Linked DNA regions of Homo sapiens: regions 1 and 2 are each linked to region 3. The links come from fine-mapping of genetic effects on gene expression. A gene starts in region 3. Each other region holds a variant in brackets. All regions are shown on one strand. Distances are from middle to middle. Region 1 overlaps GALNT7 (polypeptide N-acetylgalactosaminyltransferase 7). Region 2 overlaps GALNT7 (polypeptide N-acetylgalactosaminyltransferase 7). Region 3 holds the start of GALNT7 (polypeptide N-acetylgalactosaminyltransferase 7).

The links.
Region 1: its variant is fine-mapped to the expression of GALNT7 in blood mononuclear cells (TOPMed, PIP 0.95).
Region 2: its variant is fine-mapped to the expression of GALNT7 in tibial artery (GTEx, PIP 0.99).

Annotation. Positions count from the first base shown.
Region 1 is chr4:173,298,348-173,309,269 of GRCh38, reverse strand. GALNT7 (polypeptide N-acetylgalactosaminyltransferase 7) reads right to left here. Exons shown (of 12, transcript NM_017423.3): 7 at 7,106-7,223; 8 at 5,152-5,274. Among named protein-coding and RNA genes, the nearest start is that of HMGB2, 31 kb to the left of the region's middle. RefSeq lists enhancers at 1,026-1,807, 1,808-2,590. The variant C/T (reference allele first, on the strand shown) is at 6,088.
Region 2 is chr4:173,215,246-173,226,167 of GRCh38, reverse strand. All of the region lies in intron 1 of GALNT7 (polypeptide N-acetylgalactosaminyltransferase 7), which reads right to left. Among named protein-coding and RNA genes, the nearest start is that of MIR548T, 47 kb to the left of the region's middle. RefSeq lists an enhancer at 1-14. The variant T/C (reference allele first, on the strand shown) is at 5,214.
Region 3 is chr4:173,162,622-173,173,543 of GRCh38, reverse strand. It overlaps GALNT7 (polypeptide N-acetylgalactosaminyltransferase 7), which reads right to left and starts at 4,733. Exons shown (of 12, transcript NM_017423.3): 1 at 4,583-4,733. The coding sequence starts at 4,708. GALNT7-DT (GALNT7 divergent transcript) reads left to right here and starts at 3,892. Exons shown (of 7, transcript NR_134242.1): 1 at 3,892-4,680; 2 at 5,431-5,582; 3 at 6,754-6,899; 4 at 7,245-7,420; 5 at 8,412-8,566; 6 at 9,191-9,251. RefSeq lists silencers at 3,355-4,584, 4,815-4,934, 5,005-5,054 and enhancers at 5,365-5,464, 7,543-7,622.

The sequences.
Region 1 (10,922 bases), 140 kb before region 3:
AATGGGGAGAATCAATAGAAGGAACTAGAACTGTGATTTATTTCCTAATAAACGTGTGACTGGGAAAGAAGCCCGGGAGGATGCTCATCCTACTAAAACAGTCCCGTTCAGTTTAAGTTAAATACATTTTATTTATTCAAAAAATATTTTTTAACATTTCCAAAATGTTTTAAAAACCAATGTTTTGTTTTTCTGCAGGTTCATGAGTTTTGGTAAAATATAGATTATCAATCCTAGTTCTATATTTATGGCATAGGAGATGAGATTTTTATTAAATAATCACAGCAAAATATTTATTACAATAGAACAATTTGGATGTCACAATGAAAAGAGTCAGTGGGATTTTCCTCTATTTTTTTGTTTTTTTGAGACGAAGTCTCCCTCTGTTGCCCAGGCTGGAGTGCAGCAGCGAGATCTCGGCTCACTGCAAACTCTGCCTCCAGGGTTCAAGCGATTCTCCTGCCTCAGCCTCTTGAGTAGCTGGGATTGCAGGTGCCCACCACCACACCCAGCTAATTTTTGTATTTTTAGTACAGACTGGGTTTCACTATGTTGGTCAGGCTGGTCTCGAACTCCTGACCTCGTGATCCTCCCACCTCGGCCTCCCCGAGTGCTGGGATTACAGGTGTGAGCCACTGTGCCTGGCCAATTTTCCTCTATTTTATGTGACAGAGATAGAGAATATGGAGGCAGAATACAACAGGACAAAGGATATTCACATTAACTTTTCAATCTTTGAGGGACAAGAGATATTAATCTTTTGTAAGCACTGTTCAAAAATTCGATTTTGCTTATTATGCAAACTCCTAACATGATTATCTAAATTAAAAAAAAAACCAAACCATATTTTACTCATGTGTGAATAACAGAAGCTAGTATTTTTCCCTTCAACTATTTCCCTACACAGTGTCAGACTTTTTTGAGTTTATTTGAAATGTATTCATGGAGAACATTCAATATAGGAATCTTAATCAGAATGGGATATAATGGGAGGTGAGGTCACCAAGATGGCAAAGTAGGAGACACCAGCCTTTATTCCCCCACAACTAAAAAACAAATACAGACACCTATTCACAAACCCAAATAGCCCAGAGAGAGCTCCAGGGCCCATTGAAGAATCTGCAGCAACACAATGGAGGAAAAGAAACGAAGAATATCTACATAGGACAGGATCACCTGTGAGGTCTACATACCTGAGGCACAAGGAGATAGCTAGGAACAAAGAAGAAAGGCAGATGCTATTGGTATCGGCCATGCAGCAGGAACTACCATAGTTTCCAGAGGCCTGCTCCCTAGAGGACACTGGCATCACTTGCCACTGAGGTAAACGACAGCCCTTCTGCTGGGGAACCCCAGAGAGGGAGATGCATCTGAACATTCACCACCATCCAAGCAGCAGCTACTCTTGAATTACTTTGGGCAAAGCTCTGCCAATTCTCCCATGGCCCAGTGAGCCCTGATCCTGAAGCCACAGTTGTTCTGCTAGTGTCCACATTGCAGCCCCAGGCTCTGTGGCTGCACTGGGCCTGCCCCGACACTAGAACCATTGCTATAGTTCGTTCATGCTCCAGGCCTCAGAGCCACGCCTTTATTGTGCATGCCCCATCTCCAGGCCCTGGATCAGCTGCAACAGAGAGCTAGAACCCACCCCAACTCAGGAGCTGCTCTAACTCTACGCATGCTTCTGCTCCTTTCCTTGGCTCTAAAAGCTACTTCACAAGCATCTGGGCCTCACATACTGCTACCAACATGGCAGCAGAGGTACCTATGTCCCAAGCACCAGCTCAGCTGCCATAGAGACCTAGGCACCACTCTGTCCCTAGAGCTGGATTAACTCTGAGCACATCTGTGCTCCCATTCTTGGCTACTTCAGCTGTCTCACAAACATCTGGTACCTCGCATTCTGTTATCAATACAGTAGCGAAATATCTGTGCCCTAAGTCCTGGGGTTTTTAAACTGTCCAAGATCCTGTAGCCATAGTCTCTCCACTCATGCTTGTGCTTCAGTCCTCAGCTCCCCAGCCACTCTACAAGGGCCACTGCCGCTGCAAGTGAGCCTATGAGTCAGAACCAGTGCCAAGGGGCATTCAACTTCTGCAATGAGAGAAAAATCAGGATGACCTTGGCAGCCATACCCAAAGACCCCAACATGCCTCACTGCCACTATAGATATCTACAGCATTAGCCACTGAGGAGCACTAGAATCTTTGCCAACACTGACCTTGGTGGGCTGATCTGCACAGGGAATATATACCTGGTATCCTCAGTAGTCCCAGAACTGCTATATCCCACCAAGCAAGTACCCTCACACCTTCCTTCCCCCATAGAGGAAGCTGAAACCAGCCTGTAAAGTCCGCAAGAGGTGACTGGTCCACAAAATGCACAGGCATTAATGTAAGTCAATAAGAAACTGAAAAATGAAGAGGACATAATACCACTAGAAGATCACAATAATCTCCCAGTAGTAGACCTGGATAAATAATTCTAAATAATTGTTTTACAGAAGCTCAGTTACCTTCAATCAAACACAGAGAAATAATTGAAATAACATTTACAATGACCAAGTGGGCTTTATCCCTGGGATGCAAGGATGATTCAACATACACAAATCAGTAAATGTGATACTCCACATTAACAGAATGAAGGACAAAAACCATATAATCATCTCAATAGATGTGAAAAAGGCATTTGACAAAATTCAATGTAAAAAGCTTCAACAAATTACATGAGGATTGTACCTCAACACAATAAAGGCCATACATGACAAGTCCACAGCAAACATTATACTCAATGATGAAAAGTTGAAAGCTCTTCCTCTACAATTAAGAACAAGACAAGGATGCCCACTCTCCCCACTTCTATTCAACATACTACTGGAAGTTTTAGCCAGAGCAACTAGACAAGAGAAAGAAAAGACATCCAAATCAGAAAAGAAGTAAACTGTCTCTGCAGATGACATAATCTTATATATTCAAAACCCTAAAGAGACTCTATTAAAAAGCTGTTAGAACTAATAAACAAATCTAATAAAGTTGCAGGAAAATCAACATAGAAAAATCAGTAGTGTTTCTATATGCTAACGGTGGTCTATCTGTAAAACAAACTAAGAAAACAATCCGATTTACAATAGCTAAGCAAAACAATAAAATATTTAGGAGGTGAAAAAATCTACATGCTGAAAACTATAAAACACTGATGAAATAAATTGAAGAATACACAAAATAAATGGAAAGATACCCTGTGATCATGGATTCAAAGAACTAATATTATTAAAATATCCATATTATAAAAGCAAACTACAGATTCAATATAATCTCTATCTAAATTCCAAGGACATTTTTCCCAGAAATAAAAAAATCCATCCTAAAATTCATATGGATCCACAAAAAACCCTGAATAGCTAAAGCAATCTTGAGCAAAAAGAACGAAGCTGGAGGCATCACACTACCTGATTTCAAAATCTACTACTAAGCTATAGTAATCAAAACAGTATGGTACTCACATAAAAACAGACACATAGACCAAAAGAACAGAACAGAGAGGCCAGAAATAATCCACGCATTTATGGTCAATTGATTTTCAAGGTAGATGCTGAGAACACATGAGGGAAAACACAGTCTCTTCAATAAATGGAAAACTAGATATCCATATGCAAAAGAATGAAACTAGACCTTCATCTCACACCATATATAAAAATCAACTCAAAATGGATTAAAAACTTACGTGAAGTCCTAAAACTGTAACACTTCTAAAAGAAAAAATTCCATGATATTGGTTTTGGATGTAACAACCCCAAAAGAACAGGCAACAAAAATAAAAATAGACTAATGGAATTATATCAAACTAAGAAGCTTCTGTAAGCAAAGGAAACAATTAACAAAGTAGACAATCTATGGAATGGGAGGCTACATCTGCAAACCATACATCTGGTAAGGGCTAATATCCGTAACATAGAAGGAACTCAAACAAATCAATAGTAAGGAAACAACCTGATTAAATTGGGCAAAGGACCTGAATAGATATTTCTCAAAAGAAGACATACAACTAGCCAACAGTTATATGAAGAAATGCTCAACATCATTAATTATCAGAGAAATGCAAATTAAACCACAAGATACCCTTCCCACCTGTTGGTGGGAATGCAAAATGGTGCAGCCATTATGGGAAAACAGTACAGAGGTTCCTCAGAATATTAAAAATAGAACTATCATCTGATCTAGCAATCTCATTACTAGGTATATATCCAAAGGACATAAAATCTGTATATCGAAGAGGTATCTACACTCCTGTTCATTGCAGCAGTATTCACGATAGTCAAGATATGGAATCAAGCTAAGTGTCCATCAACAGATGAATGGGTAAAGAAAATATGGTATATATACATGATGGTATTAATACTATGCACCCTTAAATAATAAAAAAATCCTGTCACTTGCAACAACATGGAGAATATTATGTTAAATGAAATAAGCCAGGCACAGAAAGACAAACACTGCATGATATTACTTACATGTGGAGTGTAAACAAGTAAACAGATAGTAAAATGGTGGTTACCAGAAGGTGAGGATTGGGGGGAGTGGGCTGATTTTGGTCAAAGGACACAAAACTTCTGTTAGGAACAATAGTTTTAAGAGATCTATTATACAACATGGTGACTACAATTTATAATATATTACATATATGAAAATTGCTGAGAACAAATTTTAAGTGTTCTCAGCACAAAAACAAGTAGGTGACGTAATACATGTCCAAATAGCCAGATTTAGCCATCCCCACAATGTATACATATATCAAAACATCATATTGTACAAGATACATACAATATTTACTTGTCAATTAAAAAAATAGGGTGCAATCTTTTTTTTTTTTAAGAGATGGGGTCTCGTTCTGTCATCCAGCGGGGAGTGCAGTGGTGCAATCATAGCTCACTGCAGCCTTGAACTCCTGGGCTCAAGGAATCCTCCTGCTTCAGCTGAATAATCTTAAAGAACAATAAGATATTTCGTGAATAAGTCTAGCTAAGTTAAAGGTGAGAATCAACATGACTGCTGAAGAGCCCACTCAATAAGCTGACAATTGTTAAGTAACTACTATAGCATGTGGTACATAAATGTTAGTTCCCTGTCCTCCCCTTTTATCCAAAAAACTCACCTTCAGAGTTGGAGAAGACCCAACATAAATGGGCGGAGGATTTCCTTGCCAGCCCTCAAGACGGTAGATATGTCCAACACGAGAACAAGGAACAAATAATAATTTGCCACCACACTGCCATATCTATGAAGGAAAAACACGTTGTGAAAGTTGTTTCAAATACAAACATAAACCATAACTGAAAATTTATCTTGTAAGTGTAAATCTAAAATCTAAATTATATACAGTGTCCACACAGAATTCTTAAACTAAACAAATCCTAAAATAATTTGCTTTTAAAAGCTCATGTAACAACCAAGAAGGCAACAGGGAATACAGTATTAATAATAAACTGCTACTAAGGGGCCTCTTACTGTGTACTCATAGCCCCTAGCAACTTTCTCCCAATATAACCTTGCAAAGTCATGTGGATTCTTTATTCCTAACTCATTAATCATTTCCATTGCTAATATATTTCCTACTTGGGTGATTATTATAATAAACTCCTAACTGGCTTCTTCACCTTCGGCTTCTCTCTACTCAACTATCCTTATTTATAGCAAGAGATTATTATAGGTGAAGGGCAGCTTTGGGTCATGTTATTCCCTTGCTTAATATCTTTGATCGTTCTCCACTGCTTATCAAATTAAATAAAAATCTCTTAACTCAGCTTTAAAGGCTCTCTTCAATATGGCCCTAATACACCTTCCCATTTTATCTTCTTAGATGTCTTCCTTATTCATGTTGCTTGATTCTGCCAAAGTTTGCTCCTTGCTGTTCTCTGAATGTTCCTTGTGTTCTCTTCTTTGTACTTTTCCCCATGCTACTTGCTTAGAAGTCCCCCTCCCATCCCTTATCTGTGCTTACTAACATCATACCCATCTTCCTACTTCTGCCGCAAATTCTGCATCTAGCATAACGCTCGCTCTTTCTTTTTTTTTTTTTGAGACGGAGTCT[C/T]GCTCTGTCCCCCAGGCTGGAGTGCAGTGGTGCGATCTCGGCTCACTACAATCTCCGCCTCCCAGATTCAAGCAATTCCCCTGCCTCAGCCTCCCGAGTATCTGGGACTACAGGTGTGTACCACCACACCCGGCTAATTTTTTGTATTTTAGTAGAGATGGGGTTTCACCATGTTGGCTAGGATGGTCTCGATCTCTTGACCTCATGATCCGCCCATGTTGGCCTCCCAAAGTGATGGGTTTATAGGCATGAGCGCCTGGCCGACGGTTTTTTAAGCACACCAACTGAATGCCATTCTGCCTTCTTGTATTATGAATTTAAGTATAATTCTAATATCTTCTTATCAAGTTCCTTGAGAGCAACAACTGGTTTACTCCTCTTCTATCCCTCACAGTGCTACGCACAGGACATTTAAGACAAGAGGTAATGAATACCTGTTTAACTCACACTCTGATATAGTTCTCTCTCTCTTTCTTTTGGAAAATGGGGGTAGGAATAGGGGTTGAGGTGGGGGCTGGAGCATGGAAGATAGTATTGCTCCCAGACTGCTTCAACAACAGGGTGGATGCTGCAGGAAGACAGCGCCAAAGTCAGCCTGAGGATACAGTCATTGTGGGGCTCTGCTTCTGTCTTGAATCATGTCCTACAGTGGTAAAGGGTGACTGTGTCAGTGGGTGGTCAATTGTGGCCCTAACGCATGCAGATTCTTCCAAGGGCTTCTATAATAAAAAGCTCCAATATATAGAAAGTTGGGGTGTGGGGGTAGATATTTTCATTTCTAAAGCTTGCTAGCCACAATTTTGAGCTGAGCCCTGTAAATATATGGTAAGTTTGGAGCTTGCATTTTGCCTTATTTTTTCCTCAAAGGCATCCATTTTCATTAAATCATTCTATACAATTTGGAGAAATGCATGATATAATTGTGGGCTTTTTTCCCCCACAAAAAACTAGCTTTATCTGAAAGCCACAGAAGTTAGTAACGACTTGGAGAATTCCATCTGTTGAAATAAAATGTTACCTTGTATGAGATCTCAAAGTTTTCACCACCCCAAATCTGGAGACCTGGATCATAGAGACCCAATTCAAAGAAGAACTCTCGTTCAATGGCAAATAATCCCCCAGCCATGGCTGGGGACCTAAGAAAAAGAAACACTGCAATAACCATTACAGACAAACCCCCAATAACCCTTCACCAATAGGCAAGAAGCCTTGTAGAATACAGCCTGAAAATGCATAGAAGAGACAAAACTGATGGCCAAACATTAAGAAATTATAAAGCCTTTACAAAAAAAGAAAAAAATCTGTTCATAATTCCCTAACGAATTTACCACAATTTCTAACTGAAACTGTAGCTCATTACAAAATAGAGCATTGTTTGAGTTCACCATTAGAGGGCGCCTTGGTACCTCTGTGGATTTAAAAATTAAGCCTTAGTTTTAGTTAAAATAGAATTTTCTCTTTCACTCTTAAAAACACTGAGCCATACAGCCGTGGTCTGCTAACTGCTCCTGCATTGATTTATGAGTCATTCTTGGGTGAACAAAACCATACACCATGGAAGTAGTCTGTCATTTTTTAATTTTATAGCTCAGGGGCTCGCCAAATAACAGTGTAAATCATTGTAGAACAACCACAGTTCATTCAGAGTTTGCAAATGTAGCACAGAAATGACACAGGAGAATTAGATATAGATATTTACTGTGCCAGGAGGTAGGAATGCAAAAGGGTGACCTGTGTATCTGTGGGGCTTCTTGAATGGATCTTAAATTGGACACTTTTTAGGTCCAAGAGAAAAAAGATTTGGTAGCTTCTTAGGGACAAGTCACTCCCACCATTGGGAGAAATTACAGCAGAATTTATCTTGCTCCCTGCTCCCCTCCCCTGAACAATTAATTACTAATCCATCATGATTCTTAAATTTTAGGGTACTCAGTATTATTAGGGTAACTTCATCATCATACATAATATTCAATCTACTCAAATAGGTTCAATGGAACCTATTTCAAGGTTCCATTGATTCTACCTTGAAAAAAAAATCTTTTTTTTTTGAGACATAGTCTCACTCTATGGCCCAGCCTGGAGTACAGTGGCATGATTGCGGCTCACTGCAGTCTTGACCTTCTGGGCTCAAGCAGTCCTCCCACCTCAGCCTCCTGAGTAGCTGGGACTACAAGCGCACACCAACACATCCAGCTACCTTTTTATGTATTTTGTAGAGATGGGGTTTCGCCATGTTGCTCAGACTGGTCTAGAACTCCTGGGCTCAAAAGTTCCACCTGCCTAGGCCTCCCTAAGTGCTAGGATTATAGGCATGAGCCACTGCACCCAGCCTTGAAAATACATCTTGAATCTGCTGACTTATTTCCAACTTCACTGCCACCAGCCTAGACCAGGCCAACACTGCTTGGACTTTCCAATATCTCCCGAGCTTGTGTCCTTTATTGTCTTCTGCCCCCTGCTCAAGGCTAATCACACAGGGGCCAGAGCAGACTCCTCCACATGCGCCTGCATGATACCAGCCTCTCCCGGCTCTCTGGGCTCACCATGGACTCTCTTCCCGTTGAGTCCTTCACGGCTCTGCTCCCACCGGGAACGTGCCAGCCTCCTTTCTGTCTTAAGGCCTTCATTCATGTTATTCACGATCCTGAAATGTTCCTTCTCCTTTTCCACAGAATTGGTCCCTCATCCTTCAGGTCTCAGCCTAAATGACACTTTGTCAGAAGGGCCTTTCCTGATCTCCCAAGCTGGATTAGGTTCATCTTTCCATAAACTCATGTACTCTGTGATTTTTCTTCATACTACTTATCACAGCTGCTGTTCCAGAGTTTTGTTTGTTTTGTGAGACAGGGTCTCACTCTGTTGCCCAGGCTGCAGTACAGTGGCACAATCATTGTTCACTGAAGCCTTGAACTCCTGGGCTCAAGCAATCCCTCTGCCTCAGTCTCCTGAGTTGCTGGGACTACAGGCACGTGCCACCACACCAGGCTAATTTTAGGGTTATTTATGCAGTTATCTGTTTAATTTCTGTCTGATTCACTGTATTTTAAATTCAATGAGGAAACATATCTTTAAAAATGTATCCCCAGAAAACAGTGCTTGGCATACAGTAAGCATTCAATAAACGTTTGTTGAGTGGATAATGAATCAAGAAATATTTTCAATACTAGAAGAAAATAGCATCAGAAAAAAGTTGTTCTCTCATGCTTTTTCTTCTTAAAATATGCTGCCTAACACAGTAACAACACTATTACATTTTAGGTGATATTTTCATGTCACCTTTATTTAACTGTCATTTAAGATTATTCCGTTATAGCTGTGTCTTTTTTTTTTTGTTTTTGAGACCAAGTCTTACTCTGTTGCCCAGGCTGGAGTGCAATGGCGTGATCCTGACTCACTGTAACCTCCACCTCCCAGGTTCAAGCGATTCTCCTGCCTCAGCCTCCCAAGTAGCTGGGATTACAGGCACACACCACCACGCCCAGCTAATTTTGTATATTTAGTAGAAATGGGGTTTCACCATGTTAGCAAGGTTGATCTCGAACTCCTGACCTCTGGTGATCCGCCTGCCTCGGCCTCCCAAAGTGCTGGGATTACAGGTGTGAGCCACCTTGCCCGGCAGCTGGGTTTATTTTTCTTCAAATATGTTCCCATTCATCTCAGTATATACTTGAAAATGCATCTTAACATGGTCACCAGTGAGTTAATCAACAGATAACCTCCCTTTAATTTTTCTAGGTCACTTTAAAAATTTTCTTTACTGGCCTATGGAATTAACAGAAATATAAATTTGCTCAGCACCCTTTATTTTTTTTCTCCCACAGTTATTTGTTAAGTTAAGCACGTAAGCAGTTGATTCCTGGACTATTCTGAATAAGAAATTTACCAAAAAAAATTTGGTAAATGTCCAATTAAGCTACTATGATTAATTAAGTGCTATAACTTCTTTATGTTTGCCATTCAGTATCTTGATATCATGACATGCCCAAATCCCACAGCGTTTCCATAACATTGGAAGCACCTTCCCAAAACAGAGTTCTAACATCACCAGCAGTGTAACAGGGAGAGAGAGACCAAAAGCAGAACCATAGGATCAGAAAAATAAGATTAGACACATTCAGGAGAAGGCTATACTAACACTTGAGCAAACATTTCATTTGGGGTCACTTTTTACAGAGACAGTAAAATGTTCTAATTACAAGATCAAAAGAAGAGAGTAGCATAAGTTGTTCTACTGAAAGAACCACAAGAAGGGACAAAAGCTGATTTTTGAATAGAGTTTTCTTTTAATCAATCACTTTTCTGAGAATGAAGCAATAAAGGATTCTATGTAACATTTTTTAAAGTCATGTATTGTGATTCATCAGATTTAACTAGTACAAAATTAGTATTTGAGAGTTAACATAACAGCAAAAGGGGAGAAAAACCCAGAAATCTCTTGCTAGTGCCCTTCATTGTTAACATTATACCCACGGCATGAACGTGGAAATAAAAGTCTTGGTTGGATTAAAGTAATTTATGTATTTTAAATTTATAGAATGACACTGTCATCAAAAGAATAAAATTTGATGTCTAATCCAGTAGGACAGGATAACTAAGATTTTATCTTTTTTTCACTTGTACGTGGAACAAATGCCATGTTACATTATTTTTCTTTCCCCAATGAAAGTGTGTACGTCTCAGTAGTGGACATCACATTTAGGGTAAAAGCAATTACAATGGAGCAAATGGAGCAGATTGAAAGCTCTGAAACAGTGTAAGGAAAGATGTTCTTTCAGAATCTGAGACAACATCTACAGTTTTAATAACGAATCTTTAGCTTGGCAAGAGGTTAATAG
Region 2 (10,922 bases), 53 kb before region 3:
ATAGCAAATTTACTGGAGATGTGGTGGACACTGTGATCAGCGATCAGTTCTACCCCAGAAGCCCTTTCAGGATTAAAAAACTTATTCCCCTGGCTGCAGAGAGTGCCAGCAGAAGAGGGTCCCCATCCAAGATCAAGCCTCCTTCCAGGGGCAGTCTGCACACAGCGATGGGTCAATGCAGAGGTAAAAAGGCCAGTCCTCTTGCTCCAAATTGGAAGGACTTTGAACAACTACCCTAGCTCCAGAGCTCTCTGTGGGGTTGGTTCAGGACTTGGTAGAGAACCACTTCATAGCTCAGCTTCACTGAGTGGTTGTGGTTGCATCTCCTCCCTTCCAAAGGTATTGATCCCCAGAGATCAATTCTGTTAGATCTGTCAGGTATCTCTAACAACATAAGGCATCCAAATCTCAATCTCAGAGTGCGCTTCCTGGGTAACCCAACCTGTGGCAAAGATAAAACTTGTGTTTTCCTTAGAAAGTAGCTCATTAAGCAGAGTACATATATTTAAGTCAGTTTCCTCATTTACAAAATTGGAATATTAATATATGAGCACAATAAGGTTCCTGCAAGGATTAAATGAGGCACTACATAAAATACTTTGAGTGCCTGGCAATGCTAAATATGCAATAAATGCTAGGCCATTATTAAATAATGTTTTAAATCCTGTTTTAAAAAACAGGATTACTGTTTAAAATCTTCTGAAGAACTGTAAGGAAGATATTGAGGATAATGATAGCCTATGAAAAGTTACTGTTCATGCCAGTAGCTTCTAAGCTCCCTATACCATCTTCCTGCAAATTCTTGATTTTTCTTTTTACTTCCCAGTCAACCCTTTTCCCATTTCCTTAAACATTTCTCCCTGTGCCCAGTAATTCTGTAATTACATTATAACAAAATTATAAAAATGTCTAAGAAGGAAAAAAGAGGGGAGGGAGGATTGAGAGATATGACCCAAAGTAAAACAGATTTCACATATTCCAGCAGTCCTGAGGCTGACTAGGGCAGGAGATCATGGATTGGTTATTTTAAAAATACAAACCTACAATCTGACAAAATTCTATCTCCAGGATTCTAATTCAGAAGATCTTGGGGAAGTGGGCACAGATATAATTATAATTATTATTATTATTATTATTATTATTATTATTTTTTGAGACAGAGTCTCGCTCTGTCGTCCAGGCTAGAGTGCAGTGGCACAATTTCGGCTCACTGCAAGCTCCGCCTCCCGGGTTCACACCATTCTCCTGCCTCAGCCTCCCGAGTAGCTGGGACTACAGGCGCGCGCCACCACGCCTGGCTAATTTTTTTTTTAATTTTTAGTAGAGACGGGGTTTCACCGTGTTAGCCAGGATGGTCTGGATCTCCTGACCTCGTGATCCGCCCGCCTCGGCCTCCCAAAGTGCTGGGATTACAGGCGTGAGCCACCGCGCCCGGCCAATATTTGCATTTTTAAAAACTCCCCAGGGACAGAAAGAATTGCAAAGAAATCTTAAACTTCGTTCAGAATTTTATTGTAATTCAAAACTATATATGTATATATGAATCAAATAAATATATTGCAAGTTTTAAGTGTGATATACAAATATAATTTTTAAAATTAATGTTAAATTTAAATTACAAATACTAACATGAACTCATGATTAAGAGAAATACACATATTTCCTTGCACTGTCCACTGAAAAGGTCAAGAAGCAAAGATACAAGTACAATAGGTATGCCTAACACTTAGAGCTTGATTTATACATACCATCCTTCACTAAAAAGAACTGAGGTTCCTTGAAGAAATGGTTGATTTGGGGTCTGAGGCAGGAAATTGGAAGGTGAGCAAATTTAGTTGTGTCAGAAAGAAAAGTAGCCCTGAAAAAATAATGGGAAAAATTCGATATGGTGAGATCTACTCGAAACGTGGTAAAGGGGAAGGATTACAAATTACCCTAACTTTTTAGAAGAAACTGTAGTCGACCCACAGTTGATAAAGAAATGCTCACCTTTACAGAAGAAGGCCAGCTAATCAATGTAGATGTAACAACAGAGTCTGATGGAACAATAGATTCTGGTAGGGACAAAAGGATGGTTTCCTTTAGGTGAAATGTTAGCAACAGGATATTCACATAGTACCAAACTACCATCCAGACACGTTTGTTATTTACAAAAAAAAAGAGATCTGCTACTTACCACCATGAACAAATGATTAAATACAATTACCAGCGATGAAACAACCTGACGTCATTTGCCACCTGATGTAATGCAATATGAAGTACACACATCAATGAAGAAGTATTTTTATCAATAATGTTTTACCTAAACTCAAATCAAGCCAAGACTTATACAGATAGGTCTATGTATATACACACAGAGGGAGAGAAAGGCAGAGAGAGAAACCAAATTTGTTAAAATATTAACAGCTATTGAATTTAGGAGGTACTTGTATGAATGTTCATTGTACTAGTCTTTCAGCTTTTTGTATATGGGAAGAAAATTTTAGTTATAAAAAGCTTGAGAAAAATAACATTAAAAATGTTCTTTAGGTGATTTTAGTGATCATTCAGCTTGACAAATTTTGGACTGCGGGGGGTGGGGGTCTCATTTATGGAAAAGAGTTAAGTTTATTCCAAGAGTGAAGGAATTCCTAAAGAAAATATGCATAACAAAATGCATTGTGCAGTTCTTTTTCATTTAGTAACATTACTGAATAGTTATGCTACCATTACAGAGTTTTTATATAAGAGCTAGTATGATTTGCTTCTCTTAGATCAAAGTGAAATACAGGTATAACTCAGGTTATATCTTGCTATATAAAAATCTTGCTAATTAAAAAAACTCTATCACTTAATTTATTCACCATATGTATTGAATCATTAATATAGGTTAGAAAAAGGCAGGATATGGTGTGAAAAAGGGAGGGGAAGTTTATTGCATTTAAAAGGCAATGAATGGAGTCCTATGCAGAATAGACTGTGTGATCTGACTTTTTGATGACTACAGTGTGTATCAATGGTTATAATTCTTGCACTCACTTATCAGGCAGCTTTTGAAGGGCTCATCTTTTGTTAAAAAGATTGCTGGTCCTTAGGAAGCTCCATCTAAGTACAAGTGTTTCCTAGAATTAATGTAGAGAAGTGCTGAGGCTAGGATGAAATTTTTTTTTAGGATTCTTATTGTGAAAAAAAATTATCCTATTATTGGCAAAAATGATCCATTGGCAGAAACTAGCAGTCTAACCTCTAACCTTAGCAGTCTAACCTTAGTAGTCATTTTATTTAAAACATCTAACCTTAATAGTCATTTTATTTAAAACATCTAACCTTAGTAGTCATTTTATTTAAAACATCGTTGCAGGTCAATGGTAGAAAGAATTGAGCTCAGCTGTAAAGTGGGAGTCACAAATCCCATTGTACAGCCAATGCCTTCCATTAATTAGCTATATAATCGCAGGTAAATAGCAATTAACTCATTGATAAAATGGGGATAATAATAAGTGTCCAATATCAGTCACAGAACTGTCAAGAAGATCAAATGAGATCATGTGTAGGAGAACACTTTATACAAAAGTTCCATCTAAATGTAATCGATTAAGGAAGGGCAGGCATAAAGTTTCTAAAGAAGTGTTTAGAATGGCTAAATCTTCATTGTTTCAAATGCATAATTTTTAAAGAATAGCTGATTTTGGAGTTCAAGACCAGCCTGGCCAACATGGCAAAACCCTGCCTCTACTAAAAATACAACAATTAGTCGGACATGGTGGTGGACACCTGTAATCCTAGCTACTCAGGAGACTGAGGCAGGAGAATCCTAGAACCCAAGAGGTAGAGGTTGCAGTGAGCCGACATCACGTCATTGCACTCCAGCCTGGGGGTCAGAGCGAGACTCCATCTCAAAAAATAATAATAATAAAATTAAATTAAAAATTGCATTTTAAAACAAACCAATACCAAGCATAAATATGTGGTATAGATTATTAAAGTAATGTTGAGATCATCACTGTGCAACAAATGCCCCCACTCACACAAAGGTTTACTGAGGGTCTGCCAAGCACGCGCTGATACCATGGCCTAGCATGACTCAGTGAACTGTTATGGTTCCTAGTTCTATCATGAGGCAGGGGCAGAGAGTCACACCAGCACTGAGAAACTACAGCATCCAATAGCTTAATTTTATGCCTTCTGAATCGAATTCGGGCTTGTATTTTGTATGCTTTTAAAATGTTCACTTTGTTACTAAGGTTTCTGAGTCATGCTAAAATAGTGTATCTCTCACAAGAACAATCTCTGACCAGTAGTAATTAAAGAATGGGGAAAGTTGAATAAATCTGAATTATATATCCCATTGAAGTAACTGTAATTAATTTAAATCTTTGTTTATGTAATAAAGTCTAGATGTGACAGCAAAACTTAACCAAAATTTGAGTCAGAGCCGAATGTTAAAACTGGAGATATCTGCCTTTTAACTTTCTCAAAGAAAGTTAAAATAGTTCATTAACTATTTGATAGATAATACTATTGAAATATTAAAGTTCTCTATAAATCAAATGCTAAGTTAATTAAGGAATGTTCTAAGTCTGAATCTGGAAACTACAATTTTAGAATGTAGTTTTATTCTATCGGTTGTTCCATAATTTCAATTAGTCTCAAAAAGACCTATAATTTTATTTCATTTATTAGTCTCTCACCAAAGAATTACATCTCTGACCTAATATGATTAATAGCTCTACTCTATTTGAAAAATTCAGCTCAGCATTGATTGCTTCTCCATTTTATTCATGTTGACTTTTATTCCTAGGCTAGAGAATAACTCCATAAGGGAAGAAACTCTTCCTGTCTTTCTTCTGCTGTAACTCCAGCATCTAGTAGATCTCCTGAAATAATAGAAGACATTTATGCAGCCAAGAAACAAATGAAAAAATGCTCACCATCACTGGCCATCAGAGAAATGCAAATCAAAACCACAATGAGATATCATCTCACACCAGTTAGAATGGCGATCATTAAAAAGTCAGGAAACAACAGGTGCTGGAGAGGATGTGGAGAAATAGGAACACTTTTACACTGTTGGTGGGACTGTAAACTAGTTCAACCATTGTGGAAGTCAGTGTGGCGATTCCTCAGGGATCTAGAACTAGAAATACCATTTGACCCAGCCATCCCATTACTGGGTATATACCCAAAGGACTATAAATCATGCTGCTATAAAGACACATGCACACGTATGTTTA[T/C]TGCGGCACTATCCACAATAGCAAAGACTTGGAACCAACCCAAATGTCCAACAATGATAGACTGGATTAAGAAAATGTAGCACATATACACCATGGAGTACTATGCAGCCATAAAAAATGATGAGTTCACGTCCTTTGTAGGGACATGGATGAAGTTGGAAATTATCATTCTCAGTAAACCATCGCAAGAACAAGAAACCAAACACCGCATATTCTCACTCATAGGTGGGAACTGAACAATGAGAACACGTGGACACAGGAAGGGGAACATCACACTCTGGGGACTGTTGTGGGGTGGGGGGAGGGGGGAGGGATAGCACTGGAAGATATACCTAATGCTAGATGACGAGTTAATGGGTGCAGCGCACCAGCATGTCACATGTATACGTATGTAACTAACCTGCACATTGTGCACATGTACCCTAAAACTTAAAGTATAATAATAATTTTTTTAAAAAAAGAAATAAAACCAAAAAAGAGCTCGCATAGCCAATGCAAGACTAAGCAAAAGAACAAATCTGGAGGTATTACATTTCCCAACTTCAAACTATACCATGAGATCACAGTCACCAAAACAGCAATGATACTGGTATAAAAATAGGCATATAGAACAACAGAACAGAATAGAAAACCCAGAAATAAAGCCAAATACTTACAGTCAACTGATCTTCAACAAAGCAAACAAAAACATAAAGTGGGGAAAGGACACTGTATTCAACAAATGGTGCTAAATGGCAAATCACATGTAAAAGAATGAAGCTGGTTCCTCATCTCTCACCTTATACAAAAATCAACTCAAGATAGATCAAAGACTTAAATCTAAGATCCAAAACCACAAAAATTCTAGAAGATAACCCTGGGAAAACTTTCTAGACAATAGCTTTGTTAGGCAAAGACTTCATGACTAAGGACCCAAAAGCAAATGCAACAAAAACAAAGATAAATACACAGGACTTAATTGAACTAAAAAGCTTCTGCACAGCAAAAGAAATAATTAGCAGAGTAAACAGACAACCCACAGAGTGGGAGAAAATCTTCACAATCTATACATCCAACAAAGGACTAATATCCAGAATCTACAAGGAACTCACACAAATCAGCAAGAAAAAAACAAACAATCCCATTAAAAAGTAGGCTAAGGAAACGAACAGACAATTCTCAAAAGAAGATACACAAATGGCCAAAAAAAATGAAAAAATGCTCGATATCACTAATTATGAGGGAAATGCAAATCAAAACCACAATGTGATACCACCTTATTCCTGCAAGAATTACCGTAATCAAAAAAATCAAACAATAATAGATATTGGCATGGATGTGGTGAAAAGGGAACACTTTTACTCTGTTGGTGGGAATGTAAACTAGTACAACCACTGTGGAAAACAGTGTGGAGATTCCTTAAAGAACTAAAAGTAGAACTACCATTTGATCCAGCAATCCCACACCTGGGTATGTACCCAGAGGAAAAGAAGTCATTATAGAAAAAGATACCTGCACACATATTTATAGCAGCACAATTCGCAATTGCAAAAACATGGAACCAGCCCAAATGCCCATCAATCAACGAGTGGATAAAGAAACCGTGGTATGTATGTGTATGTATACACACACACACACACACCATGGAACACTACTCAGACATAAAAAGGAATGAAATAATGGCATTTGCAGCAACCTGGATGCAACTGGAGGGTAAGTAAGTGAAGTAACTCAGGAATGGAAAGCCAAACATCATATGCTCTCACTCATAAGTGAGAGCTAAGCTAAGAGGACACAAAAGCATAAGAATGATATAATGGACTTTGGGGACTCGGGAAAGACTGGGAGGGAGGAGAGGGATAAAAGACTACACATTGGCTACAGTGACATTGCTCAGATGATAGGTGCACCAAAATCTTGGAAATCACCACTAAAGAACTTATTCATGTAAACAAACACCACTTGTACCCAAAAACCTGTTGAAAAAAAAAATTTTTTTAAGAAAAAAGAAAACAACTAAAATGACCAAGAATTTAGTAGTTGGTGACTGCTTGAGGGGAGAGACCATGACTCATTTATCTTTGCATACCAGGCATCTAGCACAGTATGAGAGGAAACCCAGAACCAGCAGGGGGTCAATAAATGCTGGTTGAATAAAATAAACAAGTGATGAATGAATGGAAGCACTGGGCAACTGACAAAATTTAAAAGAATACATGTGCTTATCACTAAGATATTTTGATATTTACCACAAACTCTAAGCAGAAATTCTATTTTACTATTATTATTTGTACTGGACACTATCAATCCTTCTACAGTCAACACAATGTGAATAGCAATGCTTAACTTAAAGAAACAGGAAATCTAAGTGGCTGGGAAACTTGCCTGAGTTGCTCTTTTTAGGTACCTGTGCATAATTTCCTTCAAACAACTGTCAATAAAACACCCACCCCCACACACCCTTCTCAGTGGCCCTGCTTGGATGCTGTTTCCAAAGCAAAGGAAACAAAATATTGAGGGAGAATTTTAGGTAAGGGCAATACTATCTTGTTCTCCATAATTTAAAAATCCTCTCAAATTTACTATAAGAGCTTTTTAGCTTTTCAGAAAATCGTCTCACGTTTTTTCAATTGGATTAGTAGCTAAAGTAAAACCATTTACCCAACTCCTAAATTCCAGCAATCTTTTCTAAGCCTTAGGGAACTGAGTAAGATTCATTTTTCTTTTTATATCAGAAGCCTTATTTGGTTCATAAATGAAATGACTTCTAATCTACAGAAAATGTCTATGCTAAGATTAGAGGATAAACCAGAATCACTAATCTATCTTTATTATCATTTATGCTGAAGAAACTCTCCCAAGCCCAATGAATAGCATAAGGTATTGAAATTTAATCTGTCTCCCTACCCTGTCTCCAGAAGCCAAGACAAAATTTAACAAAGTGATTCAGGCAGAGAAATTACAGTTATTGTGAAGTTTAATCAGAGAACTCTCTGGAGCGGGATGTCTTTATGACTGTATTTTATAAACAATTGTCAGTACCCTTAGCATTTTTTTATCTTTTGGCTTTATAGGGAGTATCTTACAATAGGCACAATCTTCTATAAGCAAGGTTGCAATGCAAGTTTATCAACCCACTCCTTAATGACTCACAGAGTGAAAGCAGGCTGCAAAATATCTGTTTCTCACCAAGTCTGCACAGAAGTTTGATGTGTATTAAATTTCATCTTCACTGTGTGTCTTAAAGCGCATATGGCTAAATGTGGGTATGAAGGTTTAAGAAAAATTATGAATGGCAAAAAACATAAACCATCCCCTATTACTTAGGCAAAGAAATGTAGAAGATTCCAAGAGTTGAATCTTAAAAACAATAGAAATATTAAGTCCAATTTAAATAAGAAAGCTATGGAAGGTAATTTTGGTTTTCTTTCGTAGAAAATTGTTTTAAAATGCACAAACTAAAACATGCTTTTCACTTCAACCTTATGTTCTAGTAGATGTCAAAATCTACTAAATATTATTAGGGTAAATTAATGGACTATTACCATATGAAGTGAAAATAACCTAAGTAGGATGCATAATATTGTATTTTGAAATGTTCTTCCAATGGTAGTAATAGTTTATTACTATCAAGCTATCCTCACTGACAACCTTGTCCCCACCATGAACAAGCGACACACCCTTCTGTAAGAAGGGTAATAACTCAGGATTTGATCTGTGACTGTGCAGCTAACAAAACTAATCTATATGAGGATCATGCCTATACATGTATATGCATTTTTTAACTTAATGGCACCATTCTCTGGTTAACTGGGCAAAGTGACCATGTATTCTTTTTAATGTACTTACAGTAGATGAGTGACTGATCTGATAATGTGGCCAAAAAACAAGAACCAGATTTTCCGCAGATCAAATTTTCTAAAGTATATAAAAATATATAATAAGGGCCAGGCATGGTGGCTCACACCTGTAATCCCAGCACTTTGGGAGGCCGAGGCAGGCGGATCACCCGAGGTCAGGAGTTCAAGATCAGCCTGGCCAACATGGTGAAACCTCGTCTCTACTAAAAATACAAAAATTAGCCAGGCGTGGTGGCAGGTACCTGTAGTCCCAGCTACTCGGGAGGCTGAGACAGGAGAATCACTTGAAGCTGGGAGGCAGAGGTTGCAGTGAGCCGAGATTGCGCCATTGCACTCCAGCCTGGGGGACAAGAGTGAGACTCCGTCTCCAAAAAAAAAAAAAAAAAAATATATATATATATATATATATGAATAGTACACAAGAAACCAAATTACTGAAACTACAAGACAGTAGCCCCAGCCCAGCCCAGGAACCCTCACACCTGGGGAACACAACCACCACTCAGTTGCCAAATAGAGAGCCAAATACTGAATGTTTACTAAAGAATACATCCTAGTAGGTTCTTTCATATATAATTATCTCACAAAATCCTCCTGACAACCATAGTTTTTATAAAAGAAAACACTGAGACTTGGAAAGGTGAAATGATTTATCTAAGTCAATACAACTGGTACTAACAACTGACAAAGTCAGGATTCGAACACAGACGTCCTTGATGTCAAAAGCCCAGTAACACATTACGCCCTCCACTATTGTACTTATCTATTTTAAGCATTTAGATTGTTGTATATTTCATGTAGATTCGACTGATTTGGCTGATTATTTGGATGGTTTAAGTTTACCTTTGCACTTTTAATGAAGAAAGTGTTTGCTAAAGTAAATCAGTAGTTGAAACAATATTAAAAGAGAAAAGGGTGAACATATTCAAATATCATATAGAATCATAACATAGACATCATTATTAGTTCACTTTAAAGCCAGCTTGTGGGCTTTTTTTTAGACAGAGTCTTGCTCTGTCACCCAGGCTGGAGTGTGTGATCGCAGCTCACTGCAACATCTGCTTTTCAGGCTCAAGCCATCCTCCCACCTCAGCCTCCCAAGTAGCTGGGACTACAGGCCCATGCTGCCATGCCCGGCTGATTTCTTTATTTTTATTTTTTTATTTTTAGAGAGAGAAGGGGTTTCACCATGTTGCCCAGGCTGGTCTCGAACTCCTGGGCTCAAGCAATCTGCCGCCTTGGCCTCCCAAAGTGCTGGGATTACGGGCGTGAACCACTGCACCCGGCCTTTTAAAGCCTGTTTTGAAGGTCTGAGTATTTGTAAAAATGTAGTTCATATTTTCTAGCTCAATCTTAATTACTGGAACAGTTTCAAAATAATTGACAAAAAGAAGAGTGGATTTTATATGGTTCTATTGTCAGAATGCTCCTTGAAAGGATTCCTTGAGCCTGATGAAATTCCACATCCTGAAACTTCTCAAGTCAGGCTAGGTCTTAGGGTCAAAACAACGGGCCCTCCCCCAGCTCACAGCTCTGATCCCCAGTCGGGTTCCCCAGGACTTGGGTGCATTAAAAGGAGAACAGCAGGCCGGGTATGGTGGCTGACACCTGCAATCCCAGCACTTCGAAAGGCCGAGGCAGCGGATCACCTGAGGTCAGGAGTTCAAGACCAGCCTGGGCAACATGGTGAACCCCCGTCTCTACTAAAAATACAAAAAGTAGCCAGGCATGGTGGCACACGCCTGTAATCACTGCTACTTGGAAGGTAGAGGCAGGAGAATCGCTTGAATCCAGGAGACGGATATTGCAGTGAGCCGAGATCACACCACTGCTCTCCAGCCTGGGCGACAGAACAAGACTCCATATCAAA
Region 3 (10,922 bases):
ACCCAACTCCCCCAGTCTGTGGAATAATTGTCTTTGACAAAACCAGTCCCTGGTGCTAAAAAGGTGGGGGACTGCTGTTTTAATGGATCTGTCAACATTTCCTTTAAAAACCTTTATTTTCAGAGGCTTATGGGTCAACTGTAGACAGTCACTCAGGGCTAAAACCTGGGATAAATGGTGTTAGTCTGGGACATAATTTATTTAATTAAAGGAACTTTCTGTGCTTTGCAAGTCCAAGCAGATAATCTTAATAAATGCTGACCTTAAAATATCCAGAGGGCAAAGACTAAAAAAAAAAAAGCTTCCCATAATCATAAAATACAATACAAGAAGGTATACATTTTGCTTTGAGAACTTTCCATAATGAAACAAATAATCTATCATCCTAGGCCTCCTGACACCTTCACTACCATATCCAATAGCCAAATCCTGATGCCTTTGCATCTTTAGGAGCTCTTGAATCAATTTATTTTTTTCTATCTCTACCACCGCCCTGCCAATCTAAGCAAGGATTATGTCCCACCTGAATAATGATGACCCCCACCAGGACTCCTGCTACCTGTTCTATAGACAAATACATACTTTCTGTAGGCAGCCAGAGTGATCTTTTCAAAACACAAATCCACTCTTCCCTACTTAAAATCTTTCAACGGCTTCTCACCGCACTTAAGATCTCCTCCTTAGCATGGACTACGAGACCCATGCTTTCCTGTGTGGCATCATTCTACTTGTCATTCTCCACGTTCCAACAATATTTATCTCCTAGTTTCTCACTATTTCACTCATGCTACCTCCTGCCTCAGGACCTTTGCCCAAATGCTCCTTCTCAAGAATGCTGCCACCCACTTCCAGATTAACTACTTTTCTTGAAATGTTCAGATTTCGCCTCAAAAGTCAGAGTAGGCAGCTAGGCAGACATGAGCAGGGCAGGAAAGGCCCCCCACCACCAGGAATGTCAGGCGGCCATCAGGTGATGGTCAGGCCGTTGTTAAACTGTCTCTCTGAAATAATAATTGGTCGCGCCAACACCATGGAAAGGCAGTCTCCCATTAGATAGAAAACACCTAAAGCTGGTTATCAGCAGGTTCCCACTAAGATCTCAGGAGTTGGGCAAGTGGGCTCCAGCATGTGCACTAATAGGCAAAATGGCAGCTTTTAACTAGTATATGCCCTTCCTCTAGGAAGGCTCAAATTGTAAGGGAAAAATGCCTCAAGTGAGCATGAGTAAAACTTCAGTAAACACACTGCAGGCAGCCCCTCCCCGCTGCTGGCAGGCCACTGCGCATGCAGACAGCCCACCCCAAGGGAAGAATCACGGGAGAAGAAACGCAAACCCTGGAATCATGCCAATGTATAAAACCCCAAGTCCAGGGTCAGACGAGGTACTTGGATTTCTCAAGTAGCCCACATGGCCTTCTTCAAAGTGTACTTCCTTCCGTTCCTGCTCTAAAGCTTTTTAATACTCTCACTCCTGCTCAAAAATTTGCCTCGGTCTCTCACTCTGCCTTATGCCCCTCCAATAAATTCTTTCCCACAGGAGGTAAGAATCGAGTTGCTTCAGACCTGTGTGGATTTGCTACTGCTAATAGTCATTTCTTCAAGTAAGGCTTTTATGACCAAATTCCTCCATTTTCTTGCCCCCTATGGTTTTCACTATGAAAGCAGTAGCACAATTTTTATTTATATATTTATCGAGGTTTGATTGCTGTGTGGTTTTTACAAGATCCATGAGATTAAGGACAAGGAGTATTTCCTTAACAACTAGTACCATGCCTGGTATATAATTGGCACTCAAAAATGTTCAAATAAATCAATATTTAAAATCACACAACAGAATATGATCGGAAATGTAAGGTCATTTTTCACATCATTCACTTCAGAGAAAGGGCAAGAGGCCCAGAGATGGGAAGGAAATAAGAAACATGTTTCTTTTGTCTTGACTCCACAGGTGGACAGACCTAAAACAAGGAAATAGTGCAGATGAGAAAGGACCATCCCAAGTTGTCAAGGCTGTAACAGAATTTAGTGTATGACATATTCATAGTTCAAGACAAAAAGTGGCACAGGGTGAATGGAGCCACAGGTACAAGCTTGCTGGAGTAGAGGCAGAACCCATACCTGGTAAACTGGATCGTTCAGGCTATTTAAAGGGATCCAAAAAAGTCCATGTGTAGATCAGCATTAAAGAGAAGCAGAGATCTCACCATGGGTGGAATATATGCAATAGTCATCGAAGTAAAAGAACCACAAGGGGGAGGAGAAACTCAGGAGTCAGAATCCTCCCTACAGGATTTGTCCTTCTAGCACTGTACCTTAAAAGCTCCTAGGTTAGTCTTTATTAAAGGAAGGCAATAATCCCTTATTTATGCTCTTATTATTTATAAGCTACACTTTAAATTGCTTGTATTACTATTTACCTGGGAAGCCAATAAAAGGGTCTTTCTTGCTCTTCTGATACCTAAGCATTCCTCTTAATGTTAATTATGTTAAGTCTTTAAAATCTACCTTTTGTTTTTGACAAATGACAGAAATTACACTGGATCCACTGAGAAACTTTATCAAGTACACTGAAACAAACAAAAAATCAAGATATCATCACCTTCTTTATCATCACCATATAGTACTGAAATGGGCATTATGGCCCATCCTTTGTTTGCACTAATAAAATATTCCACGAGTTGGCAAGTGATGCTGATGTTCCGCCACCTCTTTAAAAGATCATCAGAAGGGCGGGACATTCTGAACCTAGCTAGTTTTGTCAGTTTTTCGTCAGTTTCTCTACCAGAAAATAGGGGGTTAAACATTTCTAGCTACATGTAAAAAGCCATTTGATGACTTAAAACAAATATCCTCAATTGCAATATTCAGTTATCCTTTGTCAATAAGTCATATTGAGAGCAAAATTATAAAAAGATCACCATCACTCCATGAGCTGAGAAGCTTAAAACCGCAAATGTACTGAAAAGGAAAACTGATACTTTTTATTACCATCAATTTAGATGACTTAGATGGGAATCTATCCCAGATATTACAAAGGGATTCCACTGCTGTAGAGACTTCAAATACTAAAACTTCCAGATTACATCTAATCTCATGATATAGGCGAAGAGCTGATAATGGGATCTCCTCCTAGGATTCTTACTCTTGAAAGGACGCCACAAGCCTTTTTGCCCAACTTCTTGATGCTAACTTTCCAGAAGGAAAGTTAAATAAACATGACATAGAAGCGATGCTCATCACACTTGCAAAAAGCACTTTACAACAGAGAGAGCGACTCGACTCCTCCTGCAGCCCCGCCGCCTCGGCGGTCGTGAGCCCCTCATACCCTCTCCTACCCCCACTGGCAGCCGGCCCAGTTGGCTGTCCCAGCGGGGAGGAGGAAGCAGGTGGTGCAACGGTTCATCCGGGGGGAAGCAGGTCAGGGTCGGGGGCGAGGCCGGTGCGCGCCGCCCGCTGCCGGGTCAGGGAAGCCGCAGTGCCCGCGGTCCCTTCCCCGCGCGGCGCGGCTCCGGGTAACTAATGTTCCGAGGCGCCTGACTAAACCCTCCAAATCCAAGGAATGTCAGCGCTAACACTCGCGCCCTGGGCGGCAGACAAATGCGTCCCAGCGGAGCCGCCGCGAGCTCCGCGCCGCCGCTCCCCTCGGCGTCGGCCTGAGCTAGCCGGCAGCCGGCGCGGGGCGGCCGGGCGCCGACACAAGTTAGTTTTCCGGCCCAAGCAGCCCTGCCGCAGCCAAGGAAGAGGAACTGCTCCTCTTCCCCCGGATAGCGCCCGAGCACTGCCACAGCAGGGGCTTCCCCAGGCGCTGAGGGCTGGGGGCGGCGGGCAGGCGGGGCGGGGACGCCCCTCCGCCATCTCCGGCCAACCGCCCCTCCCTCGCCCAGGGACGCGAGGGGGACCGGCGGTCCGGGCGAGGCCTCGGCCGCGCATCGCACCCCGGCTCCCCGCCGCCGGAGTTGAGGGGGAGGCGCGCTCTCCGTAAGAGCCGGAGGCGGGGCGCCATCGCCCTCCCACTCCCCGGCGGGCGGGCCGGGGGAGCCCGGGGCTGCGAACACCCCCAGACGGGCGGCTGCGGGAGGGGAGGCTGGACCAAGGGGCCTGGTCCACCGGACCAGCGGTGGCGGCATCGGCATCTCGCCTCCTTCAGGCCTGCACGCGCCACAGGCCGCAGCCTGGACCAACCCCGCGTCCCCGGGCCGTGAGCGCTGCGGTCCCGGCCCCCCAGAGCGGGACGCCGGGCGGCCGCAGCCCCCCGGACCCGGCTCTCCGCCCGCTCCGCCCGCAGTCCCGGCGCGGAGAGCGGCCGCCCGAGCCGCTGCCGCGGCAGCGCGGGTGTCGGCGACGGAGCCCGGGGCGGGGAAGAGCGGAGGAAGGGGCGGCGAGGGGGCGGGCCGGCGGCGGCCAGGGAGGTCGGAGTGCGCGGGGCTCGGCACCCCCTCGGCCCGCGCTGCGCCAGCACCACCTGCGGAGCTGCGGTGCCCACGCCGTGCCGCGACCCCGCCGCCCCTGCTCCCTCCACACGCGGGCAAACAAAACAAGTTGCCGGTCGCTGCCGCCGGAGGGGGCCGGGCGGGTCACTCACCCTCATCCTGCTCAGCGGGCTTGGGTCGTCCGGCCGCGGGGTCAGGGAAGACCAGAGGACCACTAGCCCCAGGAAGCTTCCCACCACCAGCAAACTGCGTAAGATGAACCCAATCTTCAGCCTCATCTTCCTCCGGCGGCGAGAGACTCACAGCCCGGCGCAGCCGCCGCCACCGCTCTCCCCTCCCTCCTTCCCCCTCCTCCGGCTCTCCTCCCCCTCTTTCCCCCACCCCTACCGCTACGGCTGCCGCCCTCTCCGCTGCCTGCCCTTTCCAGCTCCAGATCCGGAACTCCCCTCGGCTACACCTTTCCCCGGGCTCTTCCCTCCGCTCCTCCCCGTGGCCCCCTCCCCTCTGGCGGCCACCGCAGAGCTCCGACTGACCCGTGTGCCTCGCTCTGCCAGGCTGCCTTCCTCTCTACCTGCCCCCTTCCAGATCCGCAGTCCCCTGCTCTCCACGCGAGCCCCCTTCACAGTCCCTGCTACCTTGTAACTAACTTGCACTTTTCCCGAGTCCGGTTCTTAGCCTTTGCCCTGCAGCTCAGCTCCTTAAAGCTTTCAGATCCCCAAACTTTTATTGTAATTATGGACAATAACTCCGTCCTTAACGCCTGTGCCCTCCGGGATCCCGTGGCCCGCCGCCCCCTCCGTTGGACCTGGAGTCGCTCTCGTCTGCACCTCTCCCTTAGACCCACTTCCCTGAGCCCCTTGTCGAGAGGCTTTCAGGAAGCCAACCAGGAAGTGGGACTACCGCTGCTGCTGCAGCAGCTCCACGTGGCTGATTTATAGCTGAAGGGTTTTTTTTTTTCCTTCTTATTGATTGTTCTTGCTTTTTCACACGGCTCCTTAAGGTGGTGAATTTGTAACCGAAAGGCCCAGGTGAGATGTGCAAATATCACTGGATTGGAGGAGCTCACTTGGAAAGCCAGTATTCCTCCTGAGCTAATGAAAAGAAAGGCTGTCGTCTTATGCCAAAAGCAATACCAACCTTGTTCACGGGCTGGTAAGTTTCAAATCCAAGGACCACGGATTTCAACTCCACCCTCATTGCGTCCCTCAGATCTGATATTTGCCACTTGATTTCTGCTTTTCAAACGCCTTTTCTGCCTGTGTTACCTAAATTACACAGTAAAGGATATTGGCAAGTGTTTAGCCAAATGCCCCACCCTGAGGAAATAATTTTTCTGCCCATATCTCCCAATAAAGATGTCTATGCCTTTATAGCAGAATGTATGTAATTACATTATCAGTGTACTATATCCTAAACTGCTAATTTAAATTTAAGTCGAACAAAACGTTTTAAGATTTTATCCTAAGTTTTTTGGGGTTTTTTTTCTTTTCTTTTTTTTTTTTTTTTTTTTTTTTTTTTTTTTTTTTTTTTGAGACGGAGTCTCTCACTCTGTCACCCAGGCTGGAGTAGAGTGCAGTGGTGCGATCTTGGCTCACCTCAACCTCCACCTCTCGGGTTCAAGCAATTCTCCTGCCTCAGCCTCCCCCGTAGCTGGGACTACAAGTGCACACCGCCACGCCCAGCTAATTTTTTTTTTTTTTGTATTTTAGTAGAGACGAGGTTTCACGGTGTTGCCCAGGCTGGTCTCGAACTCCTGAGCTCAGGCAATCTGCCTCGTACTCCCAAAGTGCTAGGATTACAGCTGTGAGCCACCACACCTAGGCTATCCTAAGTTTTAAGATGGTAACAGCTGATTCTTTTTTCTCGTACTGTCTCACATCTGCAAGTTTTTTGCTTTAAAACAAAGCTCAGTTATGTAAAGTTTTACAGTGAAACAATTTCAATTATCAAGATAGATAAAGAATTATACCAAACTACCTTCATGTGCTTTTTGGCTTGGCTTACAATAGCTAGTATATCAGGGAGTTCTGTAGATGCCATAATTTCAAAATTTCCACAAAATATCTGAAGTGATATCCTCATGAACAGCATGGTTCCGGAAATGTAGAATGGATTGTAGTTAGGTGTATTATTGGTTGGCTGAAGGACTGTACATCATATTGTATAAAAGTCCACTATATAGAGTACCTGGAAGAGGGACTGTCAAGTGTTAAACACAAATCACTGCTTGACTTAGCATTTATATCAGCCCCTTAGGTTAAAACCAGTTGTTTTAAGTAGAAGATGAGAGATTTTGCCTAAGACCATTTTTTTTGTGTGACAGAGATCTAGAGTGTGTAATTCACGAAGTATGAATCTGCTGGGTAATGTGATATGAAAAGCGAATGCACCATTTCTTGGTGATGATTCAGGTCAGCGTTGGGACCCAGGAATCTCCTGTTAATCAGTACCCTGGTGATTTTGATCCAGGTAATCTGGGCACCACCTTTGGAGAAACACTGAAAGGAAGCAAGGTTGCGGGGGGTGGTTGGGAAAAGTCTTATATGGATATCTTTGGAAGACAGAAATAGGCTCATTTATGGACTCAACTTGAACTGTTCAGAAGTGAGGTGGACTCCTTTTCTTTTTTATTTATTTTTTTTTTGAGTTGAGGTCTTGCTCTGTCACCCAGGCTGGAGTGCAGTGGCACATCCATAGCTCACTGCAGCCTGGAACTCCTGGGCTCAAGTGATCTTCCCACCTCAACCTCCCGAGTAGCTAGGACCACATGTGTGAGTCATCATGCCCAGCTAATTTTTTTTTTATTTTTTGTAGAGACGGGGTCTATTATCTGGTCCTGTTGTCAAGGCTGGTCTCAAACTCCTGGCCTCCAGCGATCCTCCCTTTTTGGCCTCCCAAGATGCTGGTATTACAGGCATGAGCCACCATGGTCCACCCGGACTCCTTTTCATAGGAGACAGTTCCCTAGGCAGAGACTGGGCTTGAAACAGGTAACTTACAAGGCATCCTGTGATCATAAGAGAATAATTCCATTTGAAATCAGCAGCTGAAGTCCACCTGAATAATTAAGTCTTTCACTTGTGTTATTTTCACAGGGGAGACAGTTTTTTATTCTTAAGAAGGTAGGAAGCTTTATTTTTACTGTTATGAGCATAGCTGGGCAAGTATGCAAATGGAAAGTGATACCTATCATCAAAGTATTGAGGATGGTCCTTTGAAGGCCCTAGTATTCTGAGAACATCCTGCCACCACTACCACCCCCCAACTTTAGTTTTACACAGAGAACTTAAAATATGTGTGAAAGAGTATATAGTTATACAGTTGTATATTGATGAATAGGTATATAGTTGTAAAAGTTTATGTTTCTCTGAGTCTTAATAACTTTTAAAAGAAACTGCAAGTAAACTAACACAGGAACAGAAAACGAAATATTGCATGTTCTCACTTATAAGTGGGAGCTAAATGATGAGAACACATGGACACATAGAGGGGAACAACACACACTGGGGCCTATTGGAGGGTGGAGGGTGGGAGGAGGGAGAGGATCAGGAAAAATAACTAATGTGGGTACTAGGCTTAATACCTGGGTGATGAAATAATCTGTACAAACCCCCATAACACAAGTTTACCTATGTACCAAACCTGCACATGTACCCCTGAACTTAAAAGTTTAAAAAAAGTGCAAATATACCTTAAAACATATGCCCATTGCAGTATTTGCTGGGAGGCAGCCTTTGTAGGGTTGACAGAACTCGTTTAGAAAATGAGGAGCTACATTCAAAGCTTCAGTCAAGATAAATCACGTACCTCTCTGAACCTAGGGCTTTTATCTGCCAAATAGTGATTACAATACTCAACCTTATGATGTTCTCAAAAGGAATAATTGAGATCAAGTACATATACAAATATAAAGTACAATTAGTGTAATGGAACAAGTCTCAGGTGCGTGTGGCTATAATTCTTGTTTTATGAATGCTGCAGTTCCTCTAAAGAAGAGGGTAGAGACTAGAACTGAATGAGATGGACATAGAGATGGCCAAGAAAAGCATCGTCCTCTGCCAAGTCATGGGGTCATGTGTGGTGGATGGTGACATGGTGTCCTCAGCTCAGAGTCCAGCTGGGGGCTCAGAAGCAAGGTAACTGAAGGGAGAGAATTATTTGAGCACCTAGTGTGTGTAAGATGCTTCACATTTATTATTTCACCTAACCTCTACACAACCTGTTGTGGGTATTACTGGTCTCAAGCTGGGATTCAAAGCAGGTTTTTCCAACCTCAGAATTCTTGCCAGACTGATTAGCCTTCTGCATCTGGAACATAAATGTTTTCAGGCAGCATAATGTGCAAGAGGTCAGAGCCTAAAGCTTTGTTATTTTTTAATTTCTCCACCATGTCAACTCTGTTACAGGGAAGCCCAGCAGAGGGAATTGTATCCATTTTGGGGCTACACTACCCCAATGCTATGCTGCAGCCAAGCTGAACTTCTAAGTTTCTAAATGTAACTCACTTACCTTCAGGCCTTTGTACGGGGAGTTCTTTTTGCCTGAAATACCTTCTGACATCTTAACATTACGCTTAGATGTCAGTTACAAAAAAGCTTTTTCTAGACTCTCTCACATGTCCCACTCCACACCCCTATATCTCTTCCCACCAATGTACTAGGGTAGGTATCCTGCTAGGTACTTCCACTGCACCCTCTACTTTTCTTCCCTAATGATTACCACTATATTGTAATTGCTTAATTTCTTTTTCCTATACCCAGATAAAAATGTGTATGAAGGTGGAGCCTTGTCTATCTAGTTCGTTATTGTTATCCGTGTCTGGTATGTGGAAAGGGCTCAGTGAGTATTTCTTGATGGAATGCTGAATGAATAATGGGATTGAAAATATAAAAGGCAGACAAAACTTAGAAGAGGGGCCAGGTTTACTTCAATTGCTATTCCTCCTCACTGGGAGGTTTTTCTTCCAAGGACAAAACTTTGGAGGTTTTATTAAATTAGAAAAGTGATTATTTTACATATGGTCATCATCATCAATTGATAGGCTGTTGTTTCCCCCTTACTCAGCATCCTACTAAGGCTGCTTAGAACTAAGAAGAAAGGGTAATTTTAATTTAAGTTCATATTTTTGTATGTACGGAGATTTAAAAAAAACAGCTACATTAAAATGGGAATATGTAGCCATAGGGAATTATTTGCAAACAAATTTCAGTATTATCTATGTGTGGTTGCCAAGAACTCAGGTTAAATTAGAGTCAGTGACCTCTAAATGACTAAATATCCTATCACCTATTCTATAAGCCATTTAATCACCTCTTTTCAAAGAAGAAGAGCACAATTGGTAGTATCTTTAAAGGAAGATACATTTTATTGTTTAGAAAATAACTACTATTTAGATATCAAGGGAAGCATAGTGTAAGTTTGTTAAGAATTTATTAATTTTGTGTACTGTTCATTAGTTACCTCTTACTGCTTAACAAATGACTCCAAAGTTTAGCACTTTCAAACAACAAACATTTACTTCACACAGTTCCTGAAGTCAGGAATCTAAGAGTGGCTTAACAAGGTGGTCTGGCTCAGGGTCTCTCATGAGGTTCTTACCAAACTATCAGCTGGGACCACTATCATAACCAACTGGGCCTGGAGAATTTGCTGTCAAGTTCACCCACATGGCCAGCAGGCAGGCCTCAGTTCCTCACTGGCAGGCGGTGGGAGGCTTCAGTTCCTTGTCACCTGGGCTTCTCCACAGGGCTACTCATGACATGCCAAGCTGACTTCCCCCCTTCATGAAAGATCTGAGGGAGAGAGAGCCCAAGGCAGAATCCACAGTCTTGTATAAGAAATAATCTGTATACTGCCTTCATCTGTAAAATGAAGGTGTTGGACCAAATGATCTTTAACATTCTTTCCAATACTGAAATTCTGAGATTTTCCTATGATGCCGATGTGTGATTGAGACTAATTTGTGCTTTCATGTGGAATACTATGAGGTAAAATCCTGCCTTTGTACTTTTTTTCTGACATGGGGTACTATTTCTATCATAAGCTTGAGATGGATAATTCCTGAGTTGTGCTCATCTGGAATAAAGGACTGTTGTCAAGGGCTTCCATTTAATGAGGTTAAGGGTCTCCTACAGTGTTTGGAAAGCAAAAATATTTATGTAAAAGCCCTCAGATTTCACATCGTAGAACACTACCTCTTCATAATTTGGTACTGTTTTTGGACTCCCATAATTCAGAAGTGCTCTTCTGATCTAACCATTTATTTAAGAGGTGATTGAAACGGATTTTGTCTCTTACCACTCTTGTTTAAAACCTCTTCAACAGCTTCCCATTGCTCTTATATTTAAGCCCAAATTCCTCCATTTATTACAAAGCCTTTGTGAGCTTGCCTCTGCTTACCTCTGCAGCCCCATGGCTGGTCAGTTATCCCCTCTTTTGCAACTTAAACTATAGCCATGTTGATTTTCTCTCCATTTCTGAAATAGGCTAACT